7 linked regions of the Homo sapiens genome follow. The protein of the gene in region 1 interacts with the protein of each later gene in a biochemical or structural test. Each region holds a gene or a part of one and is shown on either strand. Other genes may lie near its edges.

Region 1 (4,255 bases):
AAGAGAAGGAGTCATAGGAGAGGTGGACTGGGGCAAGGAGCCTGAATCACACTGAAATGGCAACGAGAAATGTCCAGTTTTAAGCCAGGGAGTGATACGACTTGTGTTTTTAAACGACCCCTCTGGCCGGGCACAGTGGCTCATGTCTGTAATCCCAGAACTCTGGGAGGCCAAAGCGGGTGGACCGCTTGGGCCCAGGAGTTTGAGACCAGCCTGCACGACACAGTGAGACCCCATCTCTTAAAAAAACAAACAAAAAAACCCCTCTGGGTTGGGGGGCAGGAGGGATGAATAGGAGTCAGAGCACAGAAGATTTTTAGGCCAGTGAAACTACTCATATAATATAATGGTGGATACATGACATTACACATTATCCAAACCCATGACATTATACATTTATCCAAACCCATAGAATGTAAGAGTGAACCCCTAAGGTAAACTATGGACTCGAGGGATAACGATGTTCCAACACAGGTTCATCGACTGTAACAAATGAACTATGTGGTGAAGGATGTTGATGAGAGTGGAGGCTCTGCATGTGTAGGGGCAAGAGGTATACAGGAAATCTCTGTAATTTCTTCTCAATTTGGCTGTGAACCTAAAATTGCTATATTAAAAAAAAAAAAGTCTTAAAAAAATAAAAGACCCCTCTGGCTGCTCGGAGGAAAAGGACTGGGGTCAAGGGTGTCCTCAGGTGGCCCGGTTAGAAGATGACTGCAGCATGGGTCCAGGGGTGAGATGGCAGTGATTTTAACAAGGGCGGCTGCTGTGGAGGCGGGAGAACAAGGTGGAGGCTGGAGGTGGGGCCAACAGGACTTATTCCTGGATTTGGATACAGAGTGTCGGGAAAAGAGAATGAAGAGTGGTTTCTAGTTTTGGGAATGAGCCTTTGGGTGGATGGTGGTGCCATTTACTGAGACGGGAGGAGGAGAAGGAAAGAACTAGCTTGAAAGAGACATATCAAGGATTGCATTTTGTTGTGTTAGGTTAGAGATCCCTATAACGCCCCCACTGGAATGGTAAGGGGGCAGTGGGGCACATGAGTCTGGAACACAGCAGAGAAATCAAGGCTATGGACATAAATTTGGAAGGCAGAAGTGCATAAATGGTAGGCAATGCCTCGAGATAGTTGAGCTCTCCCTAGAATAGCCAAAAAAGAGGATCCAAGGACGAGTCCCAGGTCAAGAGCATAAAACAATGAATATCAGTTGTTGTTACTATTTTCAGTACATTGAGAAGGAGAATGTTGGCCAACTACTGTTACCAGCATCTTTTCATCCATCTATTTCCCCAGCCATGCTGCCCTCCATTCATACCGTGAACAATCACGGAGCACATTTACTAAAAGGCAAAAGAGAGTAGTGGTCCATATGCAAGCTCTAGAGCCAGGCTGCTGTGTGTAAATTCCAATTCTACCAACTCCTGGCTGTGCAACCTCAGAGAATTCCGTAACCACAATGTATCACCATTTTTCCATCACAAAAGGGGTTGTACTGTGTTGAATAGTAGCTCCCCAAAAGATATACCCACATCCCAAAACCTGCAAATGTGTCCTCATTTGGCAAAAGTGTCTCTGCAGATGTAATTAAATTAAAAATCTCAAGTTGGAATCATCCTGAATTATTTGGGTAGCCCTAACTCCAATGACAAATGTCCTTATAAATGAGACACACAAAGTAGAGACATGCAGACAAGAGAGAAGACACAGACACACAGACAAAGCAACGTGAAGACAAAGGCATAGACTGGGCTGAAGCAGTGCAAGGAATGTCCACAGCTCCCAGAAGCTGCAAGAGGCAGGGAAGGATTCTCCCCTAGAGCTTCCAGAAGGAGCACGGCCCTGTCAACACCTTGATTTCAGACTTCGGACCTGTGAAGAGGATACTGTGAGAGGATAAATTTCAGTTGTTTTAAGACAACAAGTTTGTGCTAATTTCTGACGGCAGCCCCAGGAAATGAATATGGGGTAATAACAGTATGTACCTCATCAGATTATGAGAACTGAATGAGCTGTATGTGGCAAGTGTCTAGAACAGTGCCTGCCAAATAGTGAACATTCAAATAATTTTAATTTTTACCCATGTACTAGGCATTGTACTGGATCCTGAAGAGTACAGGGGAAGAGGCAGTCTTCAGAGATCCTCAAGATAAAGACGGAGCCTGGGAAGCTGAGCAGGTGAGGGATCAGAAGGCGGGAAGTGTGCTCAGGGGCCGTGTGCATCTCCCAGGTGCCAAAAATAGTGGACTGCAGCTCCACAGCTGCCACCAATAAAGAAATCAATAAGCCTGACATCTGCTTAGGTTTTTAAAGATGAGCAGTAAGTCCAGAGAGGAGTTAATGCAATTCTTTCCAGTACCTTCCTCTCCTTGTGCCATCTCACTGCCTGCTCTCTCTTGGGAATCCACGCTGATGGGGACACTCGGAGCACATTTTCTGGAGACAGCTGTCCCTTCTTTCGGCCTAATGATACTGGGAATTAAGGTGGCCAGGGCGGGGTAGGAGTGGAGAGTGGGCAGTGGCAAACTGTGGAGGAAAGCTATGCCAATTTTGTATGCTGAGTGGTTTTGTAATAATATTTGCATGGCTGCTTTAGCCTTGGAAGTGAATTCTCTTCATCAGGAGACCCATATAGCACAATCTAGTTTTACCCAAATCTCCATAAAACACACTGTGCCAGAAAGAGGGTGTTGGGCGGGTGGTGGGGGGTGTTCAACTGAAAACACAGCTGAAATCAGACATTTTATAAGTGTCCATTGGCCAACACACAAAAATGTAGAGTTTATTGACATCTTGCTTTATTAAACAGAAAAAGAAAAAGAAACCTTCGTGCTCTTGGAGAGAGTGTATGATTCCATTTGATCACCTGCAAGCAAACATAAGCAGTGTCAGGAGCTACTTAGTGTTCATGACGTGGAGGGGTCAGGTTCCTGAAGACATTTGTGGTGGCTCAGTCCCTGGAATTCCTCAGGGGTAAGGGGCATTACTAGGTGTTCAAACTTGTACCCACCAACCCAAGATATTATGGCTACCCCAAAATACACTTGCCTCTCCAGTCTCCAGAAACAGAGTCTTCTGGAATACTGGAATTACAGTAACATCCCAGGACGTGTAAACAGGACAAGCCAGGTTCACCTTAGACAGGCATCGGAAACATGCTGGCCTTTGGTGAAAGGGACAAAAGAGTTGGTGTTTATTTTCTTCCGCCTAGGTATCCTGAGATCTCCCTAGGAGTGACAGTAGTGAGAAGGCCCCCCCGCAGTGCAAAGCTCCCTGACACCCTCTCTCCTCCCACCAGCTGCCTGGGGATGCCCGGAGGCCTCCCATGTAAGGCAGCCCAGTTCCCCACCCCCTTCCCCCTACTGAGTACACTGAGATCCAAACTTACCATCTCTCCCACCCTCCTCCCAGTACAACTCCCACTGCCTGAGCTGGCAGGTCCCAGCCAGGGAATTGACTTTGGGGTAGCCACAGCACAAAGCGTGCCCCTGCTCACGGTAGGAATACTAATTCTACACTATATGAGTGCTGCCTTTATTTTTAGCCAAGCAGGATGATGGCTGTCCTGAGGCCAGGACAACAGGGTCTGTTGTGTTAACTTGGATGATAAAGTCTAGGGCTTGTAAAGCCAAGTACTAGAGGTGTCCAAGTGTTGGTAAAAATGAGACCAGCCGGGCACAGCGGCTCACGCCTGTAATCTCAGCACCTCGGGAGGCCAAGGCAGGCGGATCACAAGATCAAGAGATCAAGACCATCCTGGCCAACATGGTGAAACCACGTCTCTACTAAAAATACAAAAATTAGCTGGGTGTGGTGGCACGCACCTGTAGTCCCAGCTACTCAGGAGGCTGAGGGAGGAGAATCACTTGAACCTGGGAGGCAGAGGTTGCAGTGAGCCAAGATCGCGCCACTGCACTCCAGGCAGGGCGACAGAGCAAGACTCCGTCTCAAAAAAAAAAAAAAAAAAAAAGAGACCAAGAGTAACCCCTCTGAAATCCATTTCGACTCCTGCTAAAACACCTCAAAGAACCAGTCTGGGGCATCACTGTGTTAAGGGCCAAATATGCCATGGACGCCCCTTCCTCAGGAAGCTGTTAAAACCATAGATCCTTAACTGGAATGAGCTAAGTTTATTCCTCCCTGAAGGCAAGAGATTGGATAATGCCCTTTCAAGGACTTGCAGATCCTTAAGAATTTGTGATTTTTTAAATCCTCCTGTGGATATCTAGGCATTTCAGGCTGCTTCTTAGACTTAAA
Region 2 (4,255 bases), on another chromosome or scaffold:
ACTGTGGTGGAGTGCCCAATACCTAAAGCAAACTAGGGCCTAGAGTAAATATTCAATAGTGATTTCATGAAGAAATGAATGGAGGAAGGGAGGATGGCAGGTACAGAGCAGGGGATAAAGGGAAGAATCAGTATTTTAGTTTAATTTTTGTGAGCTACACATTATTAACAGTTCTTTTATGGTTTTGTTTTTGTTAAGGATTTCTATATTCAAGATATTAATGCAGGCTTAAGAGATGAAACAGAAATACCTGAACAATTAGTAAGTACATTGACTTAATATTTAATTTTAAAAGATATTTATAAGCTCTCTTCATGATGTGAATAAGGCATGTTCTAATTTTTGTCTCAAGTCTGTTTTTAATTTAGAATGCATTTTCCTGTAGACTTAATATTGTTAGTGATGGTTAGTTCCTAGACCCAGACCAGCTCATGCCCCATAACAAAAGAAGCTACAATATGGCCCTGAATCCCCTTTGATTCTTGAACCCTTCTGAGCCTAGACTTGTTCTTGACCTTGAGGAAGTTAGGAAAATTAAAGTAGCACAGCAAAGACGGAGTAGAAATTTAGCAGTTGGACAATTCTGATGGCAGCTTAGGGAAAAGGCTTGATAGAGAGAAGAGCCTAAGCTGTCATGGGATTTGCCCAGTTGGTAAACCTCTACTCAGTCTCTGTTATGCTACTTTAAAGCAATTTTTGGCTACATTATTTAGTTTTATTTTTGTATATAGGTTCCAATTTCTTCTCTATCTGAAGAGCAGTTGGAAAAGTTAATTAAGAAATTGAGAAAAGCAAGTGAAGGTAAGACTGCCTAAAGTTGCAAGTTCAATTATTTTAGAGTAATTAGGTGGTATATGAGTTGATACCATTCTGGTTTAAAATATGTTACTACTATTGTTCAGAATCCTACAATTACATGTTTGGCTGCTTAAGCTGTTGTGCTTATATTTGGCACAGGCTTGAATTCTACACTTAAAGATCATATTATGTCCCATCCAGCATTACACGATGCACTTAATGACCCTAAAAATGGCGATTCTGCAACCAAGCACCTGAAACAGCAGGTATGTTTAGGCTATAGTAACTACTAAACATGGCCTTTGTTCATTTGTTAAAACTGTTTTAAATGTAATTATTAATAAGATTTTATTTTGTTTACCTTTGAGGGTACCAAATATTTCCATTTCAAAAATATATAGAAACATATACAAAAAATTGAGGGCATGGATGTGATTCTGAGTACCGTATATTAAATATTTAAAGGCAAGAGAGAAAAATTTTAAGTCAAATACAAATTATCAATGTAAGCATACTGCCTTATGCAGAAATTACCTTGCTGTTTTCCCATTTGAACCAAATGTGTTTACTCTAGTTTATAAAATAATCTTGTGAAGTTTGCAGGCTTCTATTTTAGGTAACATTGAAAATTTAAAGTTACTTGGTCCAAGAAGATGCTTTGTTGAGTTTGGAGCGGGAAAGGGAAAATTATCTCATTGGGTTGATATTGCCTTAAAAGATGCTGAAAAAGTTCACTTCATCCTAGTGGAAAAGGTGACCACAAGATTCAAGGTAAGTGAAACCATTGCTCTGTGTTAGTAACCAAACTTGTTTTCATTTTTTGTATTCAGGAAAAAAGTGATAGAAACATTTCTTAAAAGAAAGGAAAGGAATTTTCTTTATCTGTTTGTTGTAGCTTTTTATTAGTTCTAATTGTATTGATAACTCAAACTGAAGGTGAATTTTTTAATCTAAGTTTTGATAGTCCATTGATCTGAATTCTTAAAATTATTTGCAGAGACAGGAAAATATATAGAAAGAGCCAAGCTCAAGCTAGGAGTTAAAAGTCTTGGGCTCTACTCCTATCTTTGCCACTTGCCCTTCATTCATTAAACAATTTTTGAGCATACTGCCAGGCCCCACCCAGGCTGAAGTACAGTGGCAGGATCGTGGCTCACTGCAGCCTTGACCTCCTGGGCTCATATAATCCTCCCATTTCAGCCTCATGAGTAGCTGGGACTATAGTCCCACGCCACCATGCCCAGGTAATTTTTTAAAATTTTTTGTGGAGACAGGGTCTCACTTTGTCGCCCAGGCTGGTGTCGAACTCCTGAGCTTAAGCCATCCTCCCACCTTACCCTTCCAAAGTGCTGGAATTACAAGTGTGAGCCACTGTGCCCAGCCACTTTATTACTTATATTTAGAAAAGAGACCCAGGCAAATACATAAATGATTGTAGTGAAGTGTTAAAATACGAGAAAGGTCTGCACAGAGTACAGCATGGTTTCAAAGAAGGGAGTGACAAGTTCTATTGCAGGGAAGAGATGGAGAATGACTATGTAGAAAAGGTGATGCTTGAACTAAATCTTGAAAGGTGAATTGGTGTTTGTTAGAGAGTTTGAGAAGCATTCTAGGAAGCAAGAACAGTGTAACCAAATACCTGAAATAACAGGAAAATATGGAAACATTCCTGTATAATGGGAGTACATGGTGCAAAGTAGAGTTCAGCAATGATGGGACTGGAGAGGATGGCTAGCCTATAGAAGGTCTCATATTTTATGCTAAGGAAGGAGTTTGACTATGCTGCTGTCTGGTGGGGATACAATAGAAAAAAGATTTAGTTCTTGGCTTTGAGGAAGCTTACGTCTAGTGGAGTAGACATATAAATATTTGTGTTCAGTATGCTAAGTGTGTTTTGATAGTGGTAAGTACCCAATCCTATGGGAGCATGAAGATAGAGCACCAACCTCAGTCTAGTGTGGGTCATAGAAGTTTTTGCAGAAGTGACAGTTGAGATGAGATTGAAATAATATGTAAGAGTTGGTAAAGTAGAAGGAAATTTTTCAAAGTTTATCCTAGCAGCACCATTAAAACTATATTAGAAGAGTCTGATACTTAGAGAGATTAATAATAAAGATAATTTTTGTCCAACAATCCAAGTAAGAAAGAGGCCAGAGCTAAAGCTATTGCATTGGGATGGAGAGGAGGGCAAGAGTATGAGAAATATTAAGATGTTGGAAGCCACAAGAGTTGGTGATTTGTTAGTAATTGAATATGAGAGATAAGGAGTAATTCTCGGTAGGATTTTTATGGCTTAGGTGACTAAGTGGTGTTCTTTCCTGAGATAAGGAATGAAGGAGGCACAAGAGGAAGGATGGTTTTGGAGACAGAAATAATGAGTTCAGTTCTGAATGTGTCCAGTTTGCTGGTGAAGTAGAGCTTTCTAGTTCACAATTGAGTATGTGTCTGATGCCCATTGGAGAGGCCTGAGCCACAAATGTAGATCAGCCGGTCGTGGGCACATAGGTATAGATTAGAATGGTTGTGATCTTTCAGGAGAGCAAGAAGAGGAGCGAACCAAAAATAGTACACCAGGAGTGACAAAGATAAAGGAGCTAGTAGACAATCTTAGATAAATCACTTAAGATCTGTGAACTTCAGTTCCTTTGTCAGTGAATTGGGAATTTTTAGGGTTAAAGGAAATAATGTCTATGTAATAATTGATAAACATTTTCAAATCTTTTTTAAAAAGTGTGATATTTTGAAGTTCTCATCAAAGAATGTACAATCTTAATTTTTAAATATGTTCTGTTGCTCTGAATTTTGAAAACCAATAAAAATCTTTTTATTTTCATAAAGCTTTTTTAAATGTAAGAAGTGATTATTACAATAATGTTCTGTTTGTGCAGGTGGATGGAAAACACAGAAAGAAAAATTCAGTGTTTGAAAGACTTCAAATTGATATTCAACACTTGTGTTTGAGTAAGTTGTGTAACTTTCCATTGGTCTACAAATAAATCATAACTGTTTTAAACTCTGAGGTTGCTTAGAAATCCAATCATGCAGAACTGTGCTTCAGGGAAAACAGTCAAATCAATTCATTGTTAATATAGAATGTTTTATATAATGTTTTTAAATAGATGTAAATTGAATTAAGGTTGAGAATTTTAAAAATTTTCAGTATCAAGTGGAAATGAAGTGTTATATTAGGGAAGAGTTTAAAAGTTTTATAATATGTACTTCTGTTGTTTCTTTGTCCTGTTTAAATTAATTTTGAGTCTGTTCAAACTATAAACTAGCCTTCTGCCTGCAGTTAACGTGACTTTACCTAAACCATGAAAGAAAATGAGATATTTCTCTGCCTAGCTAATGTGTAAAAGATACTTCCTAGAATTTTAAATTGTACAAAAGAAGTCATCACTGTGGGATTCATATTCCATACACAAAACACACACAGACACATACACACACAAACTCC
Region 3 (4,255 bases), on another chromosome or scaffold:
TGGGTACATGACTAGGGTGAAGAATTTTCACAAGGCCAAGAGCTTTCCTTTAAGGATTAAATCCAGCTAGCTCTGATCAGAATCAGAGAAATGCTACAGGAAAAAACAAGTTTGTTCTGGATCAATGTTTTCCTGAAGTTCAATCATGATCCTTGTCATGTCTAAAAATGCCTGTATATTTAATATAGGTATGTTTTCCCATTACTCATTAAAATAAGTATATGACTACTGAAAAATTTTTAAATGTTCTAAGAAATTAAGCCATGAGGAAACACTGCACTTGACCACTTTCTTGGTCCTGTCTGAGGATAGGAGGAAAGATAATAGGACTCAGTCATTGGAGAAGAATTTGGTTTCCTGTTGAGAAAGTAAAGGGGACTTATTTGTCCATCAGCATTTCCTGGATTAGGTGCTGTGGGCATGGAACAAGAGAAGGCACAAAGCCTGCTTGGGAAGAGTTGGCCATTTAGGGGAGAGGACGAGATGCCAACTAGGTTGGTAAAAGAGGGCTGCTGGGGCCATAGTGGTGCCAATTTACAAATGCAAATCCACTGGACCAGAGACAGTTAGGCCAAGAGAGCACTTAGAGATAATGACTCTTACCCTTCATTTTACAGAAGTGGAAACTAAGGTCAGAAAGTGAGTGGATATGAGCAAGATCACCTGAATGTGTGAATAAAGACCAGGGCACAAACACCCAGGTTGTCCGTGGCTAGGGATCCACCATATGTTAAGGTTTTGTTTAGTGTATTTCTGTTGAGGGGATGACAGAATGTTCCTTGGGTACCCAGTGTGGAAGGTGGATGTAGAACACAGGCAGCTGAATGCCATGGGTTAAAAGCCATCATGGCCAAATATGGACAGGTAGAAAGCATCCATGATTCCTCTTTGGACCCTTAGTTGGATCAAGAAGATTGTCTCTCTGGCTGAAACAAAACGATCGTTAAAAAGAAATGAGAATTGGGGAAATTTGAACATGGGCTCAGTATTCGCAGATATTGAGGGATAATTGTTAAATGTTAAAGGGTGATAATGGTATTGTGATTCTGTTAAAGAGGCACATATTTATATATTTGTGGATAAGATGACACAATGTCACTTTGCTTTAAGATAACCTAGCGGTAGGGGAGTGGTTGTGGAATCAGGTTGAGGCCTGGTGAAACAAGTGTGGCCTTGATTTGATACTTGGTGAAGCTGAGTGATGGGTACATGGACATTTATTAGACTATTCTCTCTCTTTTTGTGTATGTTTGAAATTTTCCATCATATAAATTGAAGGAAAAGATATCATGTTCCCCAAAGTACTGCAGGACTTTTGATAAATCCATGGTGGTTTCCCATGTGTGTACTTCACACATAGAAGGTCAGGGAGCCAGAAGTGGGTTTGTGTCTTAGTGAAGGAGCTAGTGCTGGTTATTTAACATCTCTGAGTTTCAGTTTCTCCATCTGTAAAATAAGAATAGTAATAATATCTTACATGTCAGTGTGGTGAGGATAAAATGAATTTAGTAGGTAGAATGCTCAGCTCACGGCCTAGCATGAAATTGAGGCTTAATATTTGTTTCCTTCTTCCATTTTCTTCTCAGGACTGGGATGCACATGTTGACTAAAACCACATTTTTCCATGTTGATAGCTTCTGGAGTCAAATCCTGCTGAGATAAAGTATTAGTTCTAGTGCAAGGATGGAGAGAACCTCTTAAGATTCACTCCTGCCAGGCACGGTGGCTCATGCCTATAATCCTAGCACTTTGGGAGGCAGAGGCAGGCAGATCACAAGGTCAAGAGATCGAGACCATCCTGGCCAACATGATGAAACCCCGTCTCTACTAAAATACAAAAAATTAGCCAGGCGTGGTGGCACGCGCCTGTAGTCCCAGCTACTCTGGAGGCTGAGGCAGGAGAATTGCTTGAACCCGGAAGGCGGAGGTTGCAGTGAGCCGAAATCGTACCACTGCACTCCAGCCTGGGCGACAGAGTGAGACTCCGTCTCAAAACAACAACAACAACAACAACAAAAACCACCACCACAACAAAACATTCACGTCTTTGGCTTTGACCAGTCTTCCCAGAAATCCTGGATCTCAGGACCTTAAACCTATCAGAAAATGGTCTAGGTTATCCACAGTGAGGTTCATTCTGATCACAGACAGCTACAGGAGCCAATCTGCTTTCCCAGTTGAGAAATGTGAAAACCAGGGAGGCTGAACTTTTTTAAACTAAATAAAATTCCGCTTGCAGAATGCCCTCATACCCTTGCTATCTGGAAGATTGAGCGTATCCTTACAAAGTTAATGACATGTGCTTATTGCAAAGTTAATGGCATAGAACTGCATCTTCTATTTATCTAGCTCTTTAAGTTTTAAAGAATTCTAACCAACTTTATATACCATGCAAATTGTGTTTCTCTCTCTACATACACCCACACATATATATATAATGTAGTTAGCCTGACTTGTTTTTTATTTTCTCTATCTGTACGGTTGTGAAAGTAACCTAAGACATAAGGAATTGATATCTGGAGAGCATTTTGATATACTTGGATGAAGTACTTTTGGTGTATTTGGAAGTAGCTATCATGATCTGTTTACTTAAATTCATGGCTGCAATCATCACCTCTTCTCTAGTGTGCATTCTACTTGCTCACTTCTTTTTGAATACATCTTATAATTCTTGCATTAGTGAAATCTACTCTTCTTGATAATAATACCTTATGGTTCTTTGGCACTGTTGGTTTTAAAAATATTTTTGCATTCATTATCTCATTTAATCCTCACAACAGTGTTGTGAACTAAGCAGGGCACATATTATTTCTATTTTACAGGTATATTTCATTGACTTTTCAATGTTGGAAGGTGCCTTTAAGATCATGGAGCCCGACTCCCTCTTTTTCACTCGTGAAAAGTCTGGGTCTCAAAGAGGATAAGAGAGCTGTCTGGTTTCAAAGTGCCCATCAGTGACAAAATCAGGATGAGAATTCTTGTGACCTTTCAGTCTGTAATGCTGGTGCAACCCTCACTTAAGCAAATTGCCTATTCTACTTGACTTAGATCTGTCCTAACCACCTGCAGCCAGGAACACCTGAAGGAGCTGGTTAGAAATGCAGATTCCTGGGCCACACCCCAGTCTGAGTAAATCAGACTCACAATGGGAGGCTCAGAAATCTGCATTTAAAACTCACTGGAGTTATTTTTCTGTACTGGGATGTGTGAAAGCTACCAGCTCATTGGAGTTAAGCTCTGTGGATCTGAGCCCCGTTTTATGCTGTGGTCTTGAGGTCTATGGCCACCATCATGAATTCCTCAGGGTCCTTGACTGGCTTTATCACCACATGTTGAACGCTCATTGCTCAGTGATATGTCTGGGATGGGTTTTCTTTCTTTCCAAAATTATTAGTTAGACTCTGCTTTGAGTCTAGCATTGCATTAGAAGCTGGGGTGAATGTTTAAGGGGCTGCTAGCAGAAAAGACTCAAGGGTGGCTAAGAGTGAAGGATATGCCCAGATGGGCAAGAGAGAAGGCTGGGCTGACCAACGGCACCGCCATTTTGGACACAGCAATTTGGGTGGCTGTTTGGATGATTCATGCTGCTTCTCTGCTCATGCTAAGTGTGAGTACACATCTGTGGGTGGTGGCCCTTGAGAACAGTGTTTGTTCCTCCTTTAGGGTGACAGAATGTGCCAGAGCCCATGCTTAGTGCTTTTGTACATTGCCTTTTTTAATCCTAAAAATGTCTCTATGAGGCAAGGAGTAAATGCAATTATCCCAATTTGAAAATGTGGAAATTAAAGCTCAAATAACTTGCTCAAATTCTTGTTAATTGGTAAGTAGTGAGGCAAAGACTCAAAATATTTGGTTGACTCTAAAATGAATGCCTTTGACCACCATAATATATAACTGTTTCTTATTATTCACGGATTCCATATTTGTGAATTTGCCTACTTGCTAAAATGTGTATCCACCAAATCAATACTTGTAGCACTTTTATGGTAATTCTCAGACATGCACGGAGAGGTGAAAATTTGAGTTGTGTGAAGTTGAGTCCCCAGCCAAGGAGCCTTCTTGTTTCAGCTCTCAGGCTAGAAAATAGTGTCCATTGCGCAGTCTATCTAGTGCCACTTTTTTTGTTTTGCCTTCTTGTGCATTTTGTTGGTGATTTTGCTGTTAAAAATGGCTTCTGTACCATTCCAAGTCAAGTGCTGTCTAGTATTCCCAATCACAAGAAGGCTATGCTGTGCCACATGGAGAAAACACATGT
Region 4 (4,255 bases), on another chromosome or scaffold:
TCTACAAAACCTAAATACAAGAATCTTCAATGGCCAGCTTGGGCAACATAATAAGACTCTGTCTCTACTTAAAAATAAAATTAGCCTGCTGTGGTGGCTTGTTCCTCAGTTTCTCTTTATAGATGGGGAATTGAGACCCAGAGAAGATAAGTAACTTGCCTATGGTTGCTAATTAGTGGTAGAGCCAGGATTTGAACCCAGACATCTGTATTCCCAGCTACTCGGAAGGCTGACGTAGGATTGCTTGAGCCCAGGAGGTTGAGGCTGCAGTGAGCTGTGACTGCCCCACTGCGCTACAGCAAGAGCCTGTCAAAAAAAAAAATCTTCATTGGTAGAATTTTAAATTTGGGTGAGGGGAAGGAGAAAAGAAAGAAAAAAGAAAAGGAAATAAATTGCTTTTGCTGCTAAGGTTCTCCTCCCAATCTTTTTGTAAAGCAAGAGCAAACACGTAATATGTTACATCAATTCTAAAGTGCACATTTTATCATTTGTCAATGAAAAATGCACATCTTATCATTTGTCAATGAAAAATGCACATCTTATCATTTGTCAATGAAAAATGCACATCTTATCATTTGTCAATGAAAAATGCACATTTTATCATTTCTGAAATAGAGTTGTGTCTTATACCTTATGGTATGTTATAGTTTAATTGGCATATTTTTCTTAGTGGTACGCCGTATAATCATTGGCACCTTGGGTTTGCTGAAATGGTCATTTAAGGCTTACTTTGTATCAGGCACTGTTGTAAGTACAGAACTTCACATAATTAACTAATGTAATTCTCACAACACCTTGTGATATAGTTACTATTTTTAATCCCATTTTACAGATGGGGGACTGAGACCCAGAGAGATAAGTAACTTGCACATGGTCACCAGTAAGTGGTAGAGCCAGGATTTGAACCCAGACATCTGTATATAACTATTAGCTATACTAGGAACCTAGGCCCAGGAAAGAGCAAGAGAGGGCTGCCTTGTCAGGAAGGAGACCCTTAGGGGAGAGTCTTGGGAGTCTGGGCCTGGAGAGGGTCATTTATGTACAGTGCTGAAGACCCTTTTCTCTGTGTTTCAGTTGGAGAAGATCGGGGAGGACTCTAAGCAAGCCCTGCAGCAGCTCCAGGCCCAGCTGGAGGATTATAAGGAAAAGGCCCGGCGGGAGGTGGCAGATGCCCAGCGCCAGGCCAAGGATTGGGCCAGTGAGGCTGAGAAGACCTCTGGAGGACTGAGCCGACTTCAGGATGAGGTAGAAGTCTAATATCCTTGGGTTTGAAGGTCCTTGCCTCTTTTTTTTTTTTTTTTTTTTTGTCCGAGACAGAGTCTCACTCTGTCGCCCAGGCTGGAGTTCAGTGGCGCGATCTTGGCTCACTGCAAGCTCTGCCTCCGGGGTTCACACCATTCTCCTGCCTCAGCCTCACAAGTAGCTGGGACTACAGGTGCCTGCCACCACGCCTGGCTAATTTTTTATATTTTCAGTAGAGACGGGGTTTCACCGTGTTAGCCAGGATGGTCTCAATCTCCTGACCTCGTGATCCGCCCTCCTCGGCCTCCCAAAATGCTAGGATAACAGGCATGAGCCACTGCGCCCAGCCCGGTCCTTGCCTCTTAACTGAACCTGTGGCCAAGGGTCCCTGGGGCCCAGGTTTAGGTCTAATGACTTGCAGGGTGGAGGAATATATTGTCTGTAGAGCAGTGATTTTCAAATTCTGTAGCTTAGAGCCACCTGAGGAGATTTTTAAAAATCCCCACACCCAGGCTGTATCCCATACCACTTCAGTCATCATCTCTGGGGATGGGATCCAGGATCAGAATTTAAAAAAACTCCTCAGGTGATTCCAAGTTGTGTAGAGACTTTAAAAACAATAAAGAAGCTGAGGACGGTGGCTCACGCCTGTAATCCCAGCACGTTGGGAGGCTGAGGCGGGCAGATCATGAGGTCAGGTGTTCAAGACCAGCCTGGCCAACATGGTGAAACCTTGTCTTTACTAAAAATACAAAAATTAGCTGAGCGTGGTGGTGCATGCCTGTAGTCCCAGCTACTCAGGAGGCTGAGGCAGGAGAATTGCTTGAACCTGGGAGGTGGAGGTTGCAGTGAGCCGCGATTGTGCCACTGCATTCCAGCCTGGGCGACAGAGCAAGACTCCATCTCAAAAAACAAAAACAAAAACAATAAAGGAAATTAATGAGGGCAGGTGCAGTGGCTCTTGCCTGTAATCCCAGCACTTTGGGAGGCTGTGGCGGGCAGATCACGAGGTCAGGAGATTGAGACCATCTTGGCTAACACGGTGAAACCCCGTCTCTACTAAAAATACAAAAAATTAGCCAAGCGTGGTGGCACATGCCTGTAGTCCCAGCTACTCGGGAGGCCGAGGCAGGAGAATCACTTGAACCTGGGAGGTGGAGATTGCTGTAAGCTGAGATCGCACCACTGTACTCCAGCCTGGGCGACAGAGCGAGACTCCATCTAAAAAATGAAAAAAAAAGAAAATGGATGAAAAGTCAGTTTGCTTTTTATTGTCATCATGCCACTGGTAATTCTAAAGAGTGACAGTGATGAAATGTTTCTGCCCACTGGGCTGGACTGCTCCTGCCCCTCAACCCTCACCTTCTCACTACACTGAGCTGTGGCATTTTTACCCCCTGCCCAGATCCAGAGGCTGCGGCAGGCCCTGCAGGCATCCCAGGCTGAGCGGGACACAGCCCGGCTGGACAAAGAGCTACTGGCCCAGCGACTGCAGGGGCTGGAGCAAGAGGCAGAGAACAAGAAGCGTTCCCAGGACGACAGGGCCCGGCAGCTGAAGGGTCTCGAGGTGAGGGCACTGAGGTGTGACCTGTGGAAAAAGGGTGGGACTTCCAAGCCTCTTTCTGTACTAGCGGTCAAAACCGACAGCCCACAGTTGATGAGTTTTGTTTGGCTGCAGTATTTTCAACAACTTTGAATCAATTGCCAATGTTTAGAAATTTATAGAGGTCACCTAAAAATTTGGATTTCTAGTTTCTTTTGTATTTGGCAGATATGGTAATACTGAGTGTCTTGTCCTGAGTCTGCATGGCAACAGTTGGCTGGAGCTGAGCAGTGGGTTTCCCCTTTAGAGTGAACAGTATTCTTCAGTTTGCTATATTTGATAATAATAATAGCAGCAGCAAACATATTGTGCTGTGTGATAGGCACTTAAGACTTAATCCTCAGAATAACTCTGTGGGGTAGGTAGTCTTGTTTTCTCCATTTTACAGATGAAGGAAACTGAGGCACAGAGAGATGAACTTGTCCATGGTCTACTGCCAGGAAGTGGTAAATCTGATTTTCAGACTGGACAGTCTGGTCCCATGTACATACTCTTAGCCTCTACGTGGTACTGCCTCCAGTACCTCAGTTTCTGAGTCTCTTCACCTCAGCCTTGGCCCAGGTACTTGGGTTTCTCTCTCTTTTCCCATTAGAGAAATAAGGTTTTCCAATGAAGAGTAGATTCTGGGGTTTGCCTTTCTGTCAAAGGGCCGTCACCAGAGCATGGCCCCGACCTGCCCATGATGCCACATCTGGTCAGTAGAGGGCGCTGGCTCCATAGTGGCTCTGGGTCCAGGCAAGTACCAAAAGGTTACTGGGATGTGCAAGAGAGAAAAGTCTGTTAATGCTGGAGTTTGAGAGGCTCCTGGTCTGAGTTTGGCATTCTGGTGTCCAGCATTTGGGACAGAATTACTTGTTCTTCTGTCCTAGGAAAAAGTCTCACGGCTGGAAACAGAGTTAGATGAGGAGAAGAACACCGTGGAGCTGCTAACAGATCGGGTGAATCGTGGCCGGGACCAGGTAACCGCCCCCACCCCTCATCTCTGTTTACCCCTGACTGCATCACCTCTTGGTTCTCTCAAAAACAACTCTACCCTCCCATCTTTCATCATCTGGCTGCCGAATCTGTGCGTGGCTGGGTCTCCTTCAGGGTTTTGTCTGCTTTGGGAAAGGTTGGCCAGTTTCCTTGGGTGGAAAGAAGCCAATGATTTGCATGGAGGAAGGGATCCTGGTGGCCTGGGCTGTTCTCTGACCTGAATTGGGGCTTCTTTGGTTTACAAGGGATACTAGTTCCTGGAGGGACGAAGGAGGCTCTGTTTGCATTCTCTGGCCCCTCCCATTTGAATAGGCTGTGATTTTTTAGTTGCCTGGGAATTTTTGGATTCAGGGTTCAGAGACCATCCTCCCATGACTCAGCCTCACTTTGTTCAGCTTGCTGGTTCATCCTTAGCCCTCCCCAAGTCTGGTCCTC
Region 5 (3,884 bases), about 100 Mb from region 1:
GGAGTAGCCAAGTGGGGATGACTGAGGTATCCAGAGCCATCTCTGGGCCACAGAGTTTGGGCAAGGAGACTGGGATGGTCTGTGATGGAGCCAGAACCATGGGACCCAGCATGTGGGACCATTGCCTCCTGGGCCTGCCTTTGTCCACCCTCTCAACATGAAAGAAAAGGGGCCAAGGCAGGGAGAGGCTTCACTGAACCAGAGGGAAGGATGTGCCCCAGCTTCTCCCTCACTATCTACCCCAATCCCATCTTGCTCTATTCCCTACCCTGCCTGGCTGGCATCCCTGGAGCCAGATGCTTACCACCTTCCAGGCAGTGCCCATTCTGGCAGGGGAAAGGCACTTAGAAGTTCTGGGCTAGGGGAAGCCAGGGGCCAAAGGAGCCCAGAGTAGTCACATGACTCAGACAAGGAGTCAAGGAGTGCTTCCTGGAGGAAGGGGTATTGAAGCCAAGACCTGAAGGGCTAGGAATGGTAAGGCAGGCAAAGGGGTATAGGGAGAGGAAGTGTGGCCCAGAGGTGAGGTCTTGCACCACAAGTTCAGAGAAAAGAAAGGTCCAGGGGAAGGGAGGACAAGATGGAAGGAGTGAGAGGACAGAGGTGAGAGATGAGGTGGTGGAGCAGGGCCACAGAAAGGCTCTTGGGCTTCTCTATCCTGGACCTCAGCTGTTCTTACAGGGATTCATGGCCACATCTGTGTCTCAGAAACTTGCTCTGATGGCCCCATGGACCCCAGACCTTAGGGGTAGGGGTACATGTTGCCATAGACAAATGAGCCAGGTTTGCCACAGGCCAGGCAGAGGGGAGCAGCAGGGTGTGGGCCTCAAGCTCATGCATGAGGCCCAGCCTCCCTCAGAGGTAGCAGTGCCAGGATGACGTGGTGGGGAGGGGGTTCAGTCTTCCAGGAGAGGCTCAGGGCCGGTGGGCCTGGGAGGCTGGCGACTGTAGAGCAGCTCCCCCTGCCCCCACACTTGTTCTCATTGACTCCCTTGAAGACCAGGCTGCCAGTGGCTCAGACTGGAGAAGGAGGGAGTTTCCACAAGCACCAGGGCAGCCCCTCAGCTGCTGCCCCACTTTTGTACTTAAAAGGTCATGGGCTCCATGGGTGGTGACAAAAACACCCCCACCCCACCCCTGCAGGGCTGAGTCCTTGCTAACACAGACACAGGGCCCATTGTCCCCATGCTGCTCCCACCCTCTGCCTGAGTGGGGGTGTTGGGGAGGGGGTGGAGCTAGCTGGAGCCATCGAGGAGGAGGAAACCACAGTTGGCCCTAGGACCAGCACAAGGTGCCCTGGCACACATCCCCGAGTGGGATGGGACAGGGCCAGCTGGAACTTCAGGCCCACCTTCCCTGTGGGGCGATAGGAGAACCTCCTTCTCTCAGGCCTCTTGTGGGAACACAGGAGGCACTTGGCCTAGCCCAGGGTGGAGGAAGGATAGTAACTTATTACTATCCTTCTGGGTTAGTAGGGTTTTCTGGAAGGAGTGGCAATTATGCTCAGAACCAGGTGATGGGGAGAAGCAAGTCAGGTGGAGCAGGCAGTCCTTGCACACTCAGCCTGTCCTCCCCAGACCAGCAGAGAGCTAGAACTGAGCCTCTAGGAGATGGCACCTGCTCATCTGGACTCAGCGCCTGCCTCCATCCAAGTTGAGTGTCCCAAAGCAGGTAGTTACCCCCATCCTGCTGAAAAATCCACTGAGGCTTCAACAACCAAGTGGGCAGCAGGCTGGTTCTCAGAGCAGAGGAGCATATGGTACGAGGTGTACCACCCACAGAGGGGGAAAATACAGGACTGGGGGCCCAGGAATTCCCCTGACAGCCATTCATCCAACAAGTATGTGCTTTATGCCAGGCACTATGCAATTGTCTTATTTCATCTCCACAAGGAACCTGATGTGGAAAGCATCACATTCCCCAGCTCATAGATAAAGAAACAGGTTCAGAGAGGTGAAGAGACTTGCCCAGTTAGGGGATAACCCTGGGACTCAAACTAAAACTGAGGTAGCCATGTGTGTCCTAGCCACAGAGTTCAGGCCTAGAGAGGCAGCTGCATGGGTGACCGTGGGAGGGGCAGTGGCTCTGATGGCCCTGCAGTGGACCCCTGCACCCTGCTGGGTAGGGGTGAGTGAGGGCCTCCTTCCTCCCAGTCCCAGTCCCTCCAACTCCTCCCTCCCACCAAAGCCTCTGCCCGGAGGCTGAGCCCCACCCCCACTGGCCACAGCCCATCTGGTCCCCATTAGAGGTCAGCCCTGCCTGCATGCTTGCCCGACAGACACACGTGTGAGAGCGCTCACGTTTCTCAGGGGCTTTTGTTGGGCCTGATGTGGATAGGGGTTTTCCTGTTGCTGCTGCATTGATGGGGGCCACCTGGGCAGCAAGACCCTCCTGTTTGTCTGTTGGGGTGGGGGAAATGGAGGGGGGCCCACCCAACTGCTGGTCTGCCTGTTCCCCAGGTTCCCACCCTACAAAAAGCAGGGGGTACTCAGGGCAGAACCCCACAGGCTCAACTATGCCTCAGAGCTTCCTAAGTCCAAACCAGGGTTCTTCCCACTACGATAGGCATCCTTTCCTGTCCACACTGGGCTCTCTGACCACACTGTAGAGCAGAGGAGGTTTACACGTCACTCCCAGGCTGAGGCTAAGACCTACCCCATGGCCTGGCCTCAGACATCATCCTAAAATCAGGCTGCTCTGGCTACTAGCCCAGTCTCAGCTATGGAGGCCACTATGGCCATTCCCAGGGTGACCAGTGCTGGCTCCAAGTCTCTGTAACCATGCGCATGTAGTTAGTTGTATGTAGGGAGATTGGTAGGTGCATATGTGTTGTCCTTATGTGTGTGTGTGTGTCTTTAAAGCATAATTGTGAGAGTGTGCATGCCCCTGTTTACATTGCTGTGGGGTGCTTGTGTGCACTTGCAAGCTGGGAACTGCACAGCTCTGGACTCTGCAGGGACAAAGATCCCCAGTCCCCACTCAGACCCCCACACACAGAGATACTGCCCTCTCCTCATGGCTGAGGGGGCAGGTTCAGGACACTCCCACCCAAAATGTTTCAGCCATGGGCACCAGGCTGGCTGTGGGGTAGTGGGGCAGAGAGCCTTGAGCCCTAGCCTGGTCTCTGCCCCTCATCTGCTGTGCCTGCAGAAGGCTACTCATTGTGGCCTGGAAAGCAGGAAATGGGGGACAGGTGTAGGCCCAGAAGGGGCTGACCTCACAATGGCACTCTTGAGCCTCAGCCTGCCCAAAGGGCCTTGGACACATGACAGTCAAGGACCCTTTCTGACTGTAGGACAGGAGTTACGTTTTTTGAGTTCCCAGCCATGGGCCTACCCAGTACCCACCACAGTTCAGGAAGGTGAGAAGGCTTGGCACCAGGGCCACCTCTGCCAGGAGGCCACATACTCTGCTGTAGCCACACAGACCTTAGGCTTCTTGGGATAGGCCTGCCCCAGTACTGTCCCTTCCTGAGTGGTGGTGGGCAGAACCACTGCAGGGCTCACAAGCCCAGGCTGAGTCTCAGCTGCCCAGGTTTTTGTGTCTGACTTTCCAAGGACGTTTCTCATTTCTGCAGGGGCATAACCAGTCCCCAGGCCCAGCCCTTCCCCAGAAATCCCTTCCCTGGCTGAGCACCACAGGCCAGAGATGCCGAAGCAGAGGAAGCCAACTGACATCCACCACCTGGCACAGCACAGCAGGGTGGGGGTGGGGTGAACAAGGAATGGCTGGAGGCCAGAGGGTCTCCCAGTGCCTTAGGCCTCTCTCTAATAGGACGGCAGCCCAACAACCAGCAGGCGGCCCTCAGGCACCGGGACTGGGCCAGAAGATGGCAGACCAAGCCTGGGATCTCCATATGGACAACCCCCTCGCTTTCCAGTCCCTCA
Region 6 (4,255 bases), on another chromosome or scaffold:
GGAATTGTCTAAATCTGCCCTCCTCATCGGGATCCTTCAGCCGGATGCCCCGAGGAGCCCAGACTTGTAGAGTGAGTGTGGGAGGGGCCGCAGTGAGAGCCTGCTGCCTGCGGACTTCCAGAGAGGACCCAGAGAGAGGGGGCGTGGCTGCGGCGGGGCTGCGTCGTTGGGACAGTTGGGTAGGTTGGAAAAGTCCCTGATAAAAGCCTCTGAAGCCTCTGCGCTGAGAAGCTTCGTGCAAGAATCCCCTGACCCTAGAGGTCTAGGCCAATTGTGTAGAATGCAGATCATCCTCCCTGCGGGTGTGAGGGGTACCGGAGGGGCTGGGGAAACCCTGCCCCAGGCAAGCACCCAACTGCAGAGAAGCTTCCTCCTCTCCCGGGAGCCTCCAGAGGCCCGTGTCCCTCCTGCGTGTTTTCATGGCGGCAGCATCTCACTGCGTTTGGGTTTGGGCTGCCTGGTAAGTGTCCCCCAGCCACGCCCAGAGGTGGACTGTCTGCCGAGACCTACATACACACACAAACACACACACACACACAACAGCCCCACCCCTGTCACTCCTAGTGACCACTCACAGCTCCCAGGCTTTCGATCCCAGCTCTCTCTTGTTGGGCAGATCACCGAGCATCACTGACCTCCACCTTCCAAATGCCATCCACTCAAAGCAGCCCGGAGACTCAGAGCCCAGGGCCCCCCTCAAATGCACCTCAAGGCATACAAGCTGGGCAGAGGCTCTGATATCAGAAGTCCCAGGACAGCCCAGCCAATGTCCCACTCCAGCCATCTGTGAGCCACACCTGAGCCTCTCTCCTATCTTGTGAGTCTGTGCTCTGTGATAGTGCCTGTGTCGCTGACCACCCCCAGACTTAGATGTCCCATGTGCTTCTGAAACACTCTGCATGTACTTTTATCACGATGCACTGTAACTGTCAATATTCAGATATGCATCATGAAGTGTGAGGGCAAAGGGAACTACACACACGTAGGCACAGGAGTAGCAGTATTGCTGGGTTGCTCTGTGGTTTGGGAGACGTAAAACGTGTAGCCTATGAGAAGAGGGGTCAAGAGATGAGGCCAGATGCCATCTGCAGGAGAATGGATAAATAAACCATGTATCCATAGACTGGACCACGGTACAAGGAAAAATAGCAAACTACTGATGCACACATGGATGAATTTCATGGATGTTATACTGCGCAAAATAAGCCAGGTCTGAAACTCAAGGTGTACACACCTTTTGATTCTGTGTAGATGAAGTTCAAAAACAGGGGAAACTTATCAATGGTGATAAAATCCAGGATAGCGGTTACCCATCTGTGTGTGTGCAGTGAGTGTACTAACTGGAAGAGAATGCTAGAAAACTTTCTGAAGGGCTGGGACAGTTCCATACCTTGACCTGGGTAGTGATGACATTGGTGCATGCATATGCAGAGCCATCAGGCTGTGCTGTGTGCTTCAGATACACACGCTTTCTAAATTTGACTGTCTACATGTTATGCCTTTGTTACAGTGAGAGAGAAGGCAGGAGGAGGCAGGGGGGAGGCTGTGAGCCCTGCTTAGTAATTGGTGTCCAGGCTGGAAGGCATACTTTGGTGGCCCCGTGCGGAGAGTGGATTATGCATATGTCTGAGAGTCGGCCAGGTGCTAAAGGACTCATCTCCACAGGCTGCCTGAGGTTGTGCAGGGGTCTGTGGATGAAGGGGAGAGGCAAGGGATGCTTTGTGCTAGGTCTTCAGTAATGGCATCATTGTCTCCCGGCCCAAAAGCCTGAAGAAAGGGCTGGCATTACATCTCCTACCTGTGCTTTGTGGCACCTGGAACATAATAGGTGCTCAGTAAATGTGTGCAGAAGAAGGAAACGGTAGAACCCATGTTCTATTCCCATCCTGCCACACCAAGGGTCTGGGTGGCAAAGCACAGCCCTCCATTTATTTATTATTTTAATTTTCTTTTATTGTGGCAAGAGCATATAGCATGAGCTCTACCCTCTTAACACACTTTTAAGTGTAAATATCATATCATTAACTACATATCATTAACTATGGATACATATCATGTGATACTGTTGCACATCAGACCCCTAGAACTCATCTATCTTGCCAAACTGAAACTTTATGCCCATTGATTAGCAATTCCCAATTTCCTAGCGCCCTTTCTCCCTGGAAACCACCATCCCACTCTTTGAGTCTACGCATTTGAGTATTTTAGAGACCCCCATGTAAGTGGAATCATGCAGTATTTCTCCTTCTGTGACTGGCTTATTTCGCTTAGCATAACAGCCCTCTATTTAAAGTCAACTCTCTTTACTTGTTGTGGGTTGGGGGTGAGTCCCCATTTTTGTGGCCTAAAAAAAAAATCTTTAACAGGACAGTTAATATTTATTGAGTAATTACTATGAATAAGCAATGAGCTAGGGTTGGGTTTTTTTCATGTTTTTAACATGGAAAGTTTCAAACACATACATTGATAGAGAGAACCCTGTTAGTATAATGAACCCCTGTGTACCTGTGACCCAGCTTCACCCCAAAGCTAACCTAGATTCTTTCCATCCTCACCCACTGTCCCATCACTGTAGATTCTTTTGGATTTTTGTTTGTTTGTTTTTTGAGATGGAGTCTCTCTGTCTCCCAGTCTGGAGTGCAGTGGCGCAATCTCAGCTTACCGCAACCTCCACCTCCCGGGTTCAAGTGATTCTCGTGCCTCAACCTCCCAAGAAGCTGGGATTATAGGTGTGCACCACCATGCCCAGCTAATTTTTGTATTTTTAGTAGAGACGGGGTTTCACCATGTTGGTCAGGCTGATATCAAACTCCTGACCTCAGGTGATCCACCCACCTCGGCCTCCCAAAGTGCTGGGATTACAGGCATGAACCACTGCACCCGGCCACTGTAGATTATTTTGAAGAACATCCAGATACAGTATCCCTTCATCTGTAAATCCTTCAATATATAGTTCTAGAAGATAATAACTGTAAAAAAAAAAAAAAAAAGCCCACAATCCATTATAACACATAAAATCATTTAATATCATCAAATATCTACTTAGTGTTGAAATGTTGCTGGCTGCCTCGTAAATTTTTGGTTGGTTTGTTTGAAGCAGAATCCACAGAAGGAGCACACGTTGCATATGGTCGATTTGCCTATTAGGTTTCTTTACTCGGTAAGCCTCCACTGCTTTTTTTTCTTTCCATTTATTTAGTGAAGACACCAGATTGTCCCCAGGTGTATCCTGTAGTTTGGAGTTTGCATCTCCACAGTGCCATTTAATGTGTCCCTCTGTTCCCTGTACTTCCTGGGTGCAGATTTGGCCTGGAAAGAATTCTTCTTTTCTGTGGTGTCAAGATTGACCAGAATTCATGTGCTGTCAGCCTGCTCTGTCCATTACAAAGTGACCCATCGGCCTTTCACCTGCTGGTTTTGGCAGCCATTGACCATGGCCTGGACCCATTATATCACTGGGGCTTGAAGTGGGGATATTCTAATCCTATCATACCTCCTTCATTTATTCACTAGCATTCTAAAATGATTTCACCACTAGCTGTTTGGTTAAATAGAATCTGTACAGCAAAGGCAGGGAAGATGTTCAATATTCCTCTTTATTTATCAGAGGAAGAGTCAGTTCTCTAGCATTCTTTCCAGACGTGACCACTGAGGCTGTTTGAGTACCATGGTAATGTCATTATTTTTAGACATCCTTGCTGTTCCAACACATCACAGACATCATTGTTTTGGGCTTGGCCAGTGGGTACTCCTTCCAGTTGGCTTCTGAGATCTTTGGCAGAACCTGGAGCATCTTGAGCTCTTCTTTGCTTTCTGATCTGATAAGATGCTTCAGGCTCAGCTTGCATTTTTTCTGCCCTAGACCTGGAATTAGCCATTTCCCTAAAGAGCCCTAGTCTGTTTCAATGGAAGATGACTGAGCTGTTCATTGATACTGAGTTGGTCACTGATTCAATGGACAGATCTAGGAAGTACATTTTATTTTCAGTAGAAGAAAAACACAACACTGATGGGGACTTCTGTCCTTGGACATATATTCCTCCTTCCCCTCCCCTGAAGATCTTGTCCTCTGCCCAGCTCCTGCTGATATGTTTGTCCCAAACATCTGAGGAACTGTTGATCACCCTGCTCCATTCATTAAAGATCTGGGCATCAGAATCACACTGTTTTTTCCTCACTCCCACCCCTACCCTGGTCATCAGTGTGACTCCACTGTACTGAGGCTGACCCATGATGACACTCTGGCCTTGAGACT
Region 7 (3,565 bases), on another chromosome or scaffold:
TGAAATTTATGATAATTATGTGACATACATTGCACAGCTACTACTCAAAAAAGAATTTTGTAGATGTATGAAAGCAGATTATTCAACACAATGCATTCCTGAGAATAAAATGAACATAATCAGAGTAAAATATTTTTGAGGAGAAAACTTAAAATGTTGGTATAACTCAAAGTAATCTAATACACAACCTTGCACTAAATGTGATTGACATTTGGATTTGGGATGGGGAGAGATAGTTTCCTAAAATCACAGTAACTTTTAATAATTGTAATGCATTTTGAAAACAGAGAATCATATTTTTATAATGGTGAGAACTATGCAATAACTCTTTAGGAATGAAAACTTCCTTTAAGAAGTTTGCCACCGTTAGAGATGAGGAGATAGTGAGACAGAGAGATGTTCACAGAGACTCAGCAAATCTTAGACAATAATGCTGCAATTTTCTGAAAGAAGATGCTTGCAGTGTCAGGTATGGTTTGGGGGTTGGAAAAGTTACTTTTCTGATTTCTTGGAACCATTTAAAACTCCTTTATATCATTCTGTCTCTTTCCAAATTGAGGGTCAACTACTAGTTTAGAGATATAAGGTATTTTATCTTGTTTTCAAGTTCTACTTCAGAAGAAAACCTATTTCATGTTTCTTCTCCCATTACCTACTTAAGATACTTAAGGTATTTAAGTATGCATTTGAGGAAATATTTTCCTGTGCTAAAATAAAGGTTTGCAAATGTTGGTGTGAGAGGTTTTAACTTTGACCAGTGAGAATAAAATGTATGATTGTGTGTGTGAATTTCTCCTAACATATTAACCAACTCCTTTCTATATGCAACAAGGTAACCTGGTGCCCCAAATCAATACTTGTAAGTACTATTCAGAGTTAAACTTCCAAAGTCAAAAAATATATATACACAAAAAAAGGGGAAAAGCCACATTTTTTTGAACAGAGGTAGAAGAGAAAGAGAAAAAAAGTGTCTCAGCCCTTTAGAGGAAAAGAGAGCAACTCATTCTGATGAGTTACACAGTTTTAGCAAATTGTTCTTATCAATATAATAGACATGAGGATTGTTCCTGGTAGCCTTCAAGAGCTCCTAGACAGATATAAATTTAAGTAGACATTACTTTATTTTGCTGTTAATCCAAGTAGACATTGCGACTTGATTCTGAATAGGCATTTTATTTTCAAAATTTTTCTACTGAATTTCTCTTGCTCTGTATGCCTACTTATTGTGCACATGGGTTGTTTTTCCAAACTGCTTCTTGATTCTTAAGTGAGAATTCAGACATGATACTCAAACGAGAGCATATTAGACATCTGTTTTAAGATTTATTTTCTGTTGCAGTCATCTTGGCAAACAAAATCCAGATACAGTTAAGTTCAGGCTCTCTTCCAAACCCTGCTAAGCAGCTGCTTTGAAAATGTTTTCAATACTATGGATCTTAATATCCACTGAGATGACAAATGTAGGAAAGGAAGATTCATTCTGTTAAATGTTTTTTCTCTTTTGCAATGTCCAAGCTCTACTTATTTATTAATAGCCTCCCTCTGTACCCATAACATCATTTATTTGGTGAATTCACTGTTATTAATACTAGTATTTTATCACAGTAAAGAAAAGGTTTCTGAAAACCCACAACCTCACTATCCTAAAGCAACTACTGTGTTTCTATTTTGGTATATCATCTTCCAGGCTTCCTCCACATGCAAATGCAGCATACATATTATAATAGTGTGTTTTTCTTTTCTCTTTGAATTATATTCCATGCATGTTTCCATGTTTCTATGTAGTATTTCTAATTATCAATGAACGATTGTGTAATATGCCATTTTAGTGATGTTCCATAATTTATCATGCCATTCCTTATTGCTGGCAAGATACTAAGTTTTATGGATGATTTTGTATGTTTTTTTCCTATTGCTGGTTACACTGCTATATTATTTGTTATATGCCAATAGAGAGGAACTTTACTATTGAACAGGTATCTCCTTGTGGATGAGAGAGAGGAGGCAGAAATGTGTAAATGAATGGAACTCTCCATATTGTTGTGTGGGTCTTCCCTTCACTCTTGTGGATATAAGACCCAGGGTGGGAAACAAAACGATGCTTCTTCCAAAAGATCCTCCCATCAGGACCAGAACTAGTATGTTTAGGAGTAAGATGGAACATTTCCCCAGCTAAGATACCAGTGGTGTGTTTCTCACAATTAGATTACAGTGGTGTCAGTCTTCAAGAGCATCGTGTTCAACAAGCAAAATGATAAATAGATGTAAACAATAATAATGACTTTGTAATATGCCAAAAGCATTTTCTTAAAGTACCTCATCATATATTTTATAATAGATGTATTTCATATGTATATGTATTGTCGCCTATCAGTGACTTACAAATGAACTGGAATTTCAGGAATCTGATAGACTCTGCCCTTGAGTTTTCTGTGTTTCAGTTTCCTACTGGGAAAAACTAAACTGAGGATGGAAATGGGGACAAATGCTTGGTTTGCCCAAATATCTTAATAAAAGACTAGATTCCATTCAACCTCTTGTCCAGTTCACATAAAATCATGTAGACACCACTGAGTCTGAGACCATGACTTTGATTTCTCATGACCTACCGCAGGGTCCTCACTCTATGGGCACCCAACCAAAAGAAATGTGTACATGATGCTGCCCAGATACACAAACAGGCAGGCACTGATGTTAGATAGCCAGTCTTTGGCAAGTTGTTCCTGGGACTGACCCTTACTAGGGATTCTTTTTTTATTTTTCCCTTTATTCCTTCCCTGACCCCAGATTACAGCCTGCAGACTTGGTATTCTCGGTGATAGTACAAAGCTTTGCATGCTTTATCCCTAATAAGGTACAGAGTTACAAAATGAACCGATTACAAAACAGTACATAAAGCTATTAAAAATCTCCTGTGCTGCTCTTTGACAAATCTATCTTTAGAAAGTTGAACATAAAAGATAATTTTGCAATTAGTCACTTTCTTATTTTTCATGGTAATGAACTATTGTACATAAGACAACTCTTCAGTAGGAGGCCAGACCACATTTGTTTGAAAAAACTAGGCTTTTGAAAATCACCTGCCTGTATCTGAACATGAAAAGTATGGGCAATTATTTTCTTTCTTTCTTTCTTTCTTTTTTTGAGACAGGGCCTTGTTCTGTCATCCAGGCTGGAGTGCAGTGGCATGATCTTGGCTCACTGCAACCTCCATCTCCTAGGTTTCAAACGATTCTTCTGCCTCAGTCTCCCCAGTAGCTGGGATTACAGGCGCCTGCCACCAAACGGCAAATTTTTGTATTTTTAGTAGAGACGAGGTTTCACCATGTTGGCCAGGCTGGTCTCGAACTCCTGACCTCAGGTGATCCACCAGCCTCAGCCTCTCAAAATGCTAGGATTACAGGCGTGATCCTAGCACTGCACCTGGCCATTATTTTCTATATAAGTGATTAGACCACCAGACCAACTCAGAAAGGCCCACTCTGTTCCTCTGCTTTTCCGAACTACCTCCCATCCCCTGCGGGAGCTTCTTGAATATTCCTGATTGTGCCCTGCAGCTGACCAC

What was found.
Region 2: the proteins of PDZD2 (region 1) and TRMT13 interact in a test that uses a peptide from one of them, tested with the Homo sapiens proteins (one large-scale study listed by IntAct).
Region 3: the proteins of PDZD2 (region 1) and CBY2 interact in a test that uses a peptide from one of them, tested with the Homo sapiens proteins (one large-scale study listed by IntAct).
Region 4: the proteins of PDZD2 (region 1) and CGN interact in a test that uses a peptide from one of them, tested with the Homo sapiens proteins (one large-scale study listed by IntAct).
Region 5: the proteins of PDZD2 (region 1) and PDLIM4 interact in a test that uses a peptide from one of them, tested with the Homo sapiens proteins (one large-scale study listed by IntAct).
Region 6: the proteins of PDZD2 (region 1) and ADRA1D interact in a test that uses a peptide from one of them, tested with the Homo sapiens proteins (one large-scale study listed by IntAct).
Region 7: the proteins of PDZD2 (region 1) and TMEM215 interact in a test that uses a peptide from one of them, tested with the Homo sapiens proteins (one large-scale study listed by IntAct).

What each region holds. Positions count from the first base shown.
Region 1 is NC_000005.10:31,645,047-31,649,301, reverse strand, and holds part of PDZD2 (PDZ domain-containing protein 2), read right to left. Parts: intron 1-4,255.
Region 2 is NC_000001.11:100,139,451-100,143,705, forward strand, and holds part of TRMT13 (tRNA:m(4)X modification enzyme TRM13 homolog), read left to right. Parts: intron 1-198; coding exon 199-261; intron 262-731; coding exon 732-801; intron 802-957; coding exon 958-1,064; intron 1,065-1,401; coding exon 1,402-1,569; intron 1,570-3,686; coding exon 3,687-3,759; exon of another isoform or gene 3,760-3,764; intron 3,765-4,255. UniProt on the Homo sapiens protein: tRNA methylase which 2'-O-methylates cytidine(4) in tRNA(Pro) and tRNA(Gly)(GCC), and adenosine(4) in tRNA(His).
Region 3 is NC_000013.11:45,708,532-45,712,786, forward strand, and holds part of CBY2 (protein chibby homolog 2), read left to right. Parts: intron 1-4,255.
Region 4 is NC_000001.11:151,531,328-151,535,582, forward strand, and holds part of CGN (cingulin), read left to right. Parts: intron 1-1,074; coding exon 1,075-1,245; intron 1,246-2,647; coding exon 2,648-2,809; intron 2,810-3,714; coding exon 3,715-3,804; intron 3,805-4,255. UniProt on the Homo sapiens protein: Probably plays a role in the formation and regulation of the tight junction (TJ) paracellular permeability barrier.
Region 5 is NC_000005.10:132,267,144-132,271,027, forward strand, and holds part of PDLIM4 (PDZ and LIM domain protein 4), read left to right. Parts: intron 1-3,771; coding exon 3,772-3,884.
Region 6 is NC_000020.11:4,239,143-4,243,397, reverse strand, and holds part of ADRA1D (alpha-1D adrenergic receptor), read left to right. Parts: intron 1-4,255. UniProt on the Homo sapiens protein: This alpha-adrenergic receptor mediates its effect through the influx of extracellular calcium.
Region 7 is NC_000009.12:32,786,669-32,790,233, forward strand, and holds the end of TMEM215 (transmembrane protein 215), read left to right. Parts: 3' UTR 1-2,533; downstream 2,534-3,565.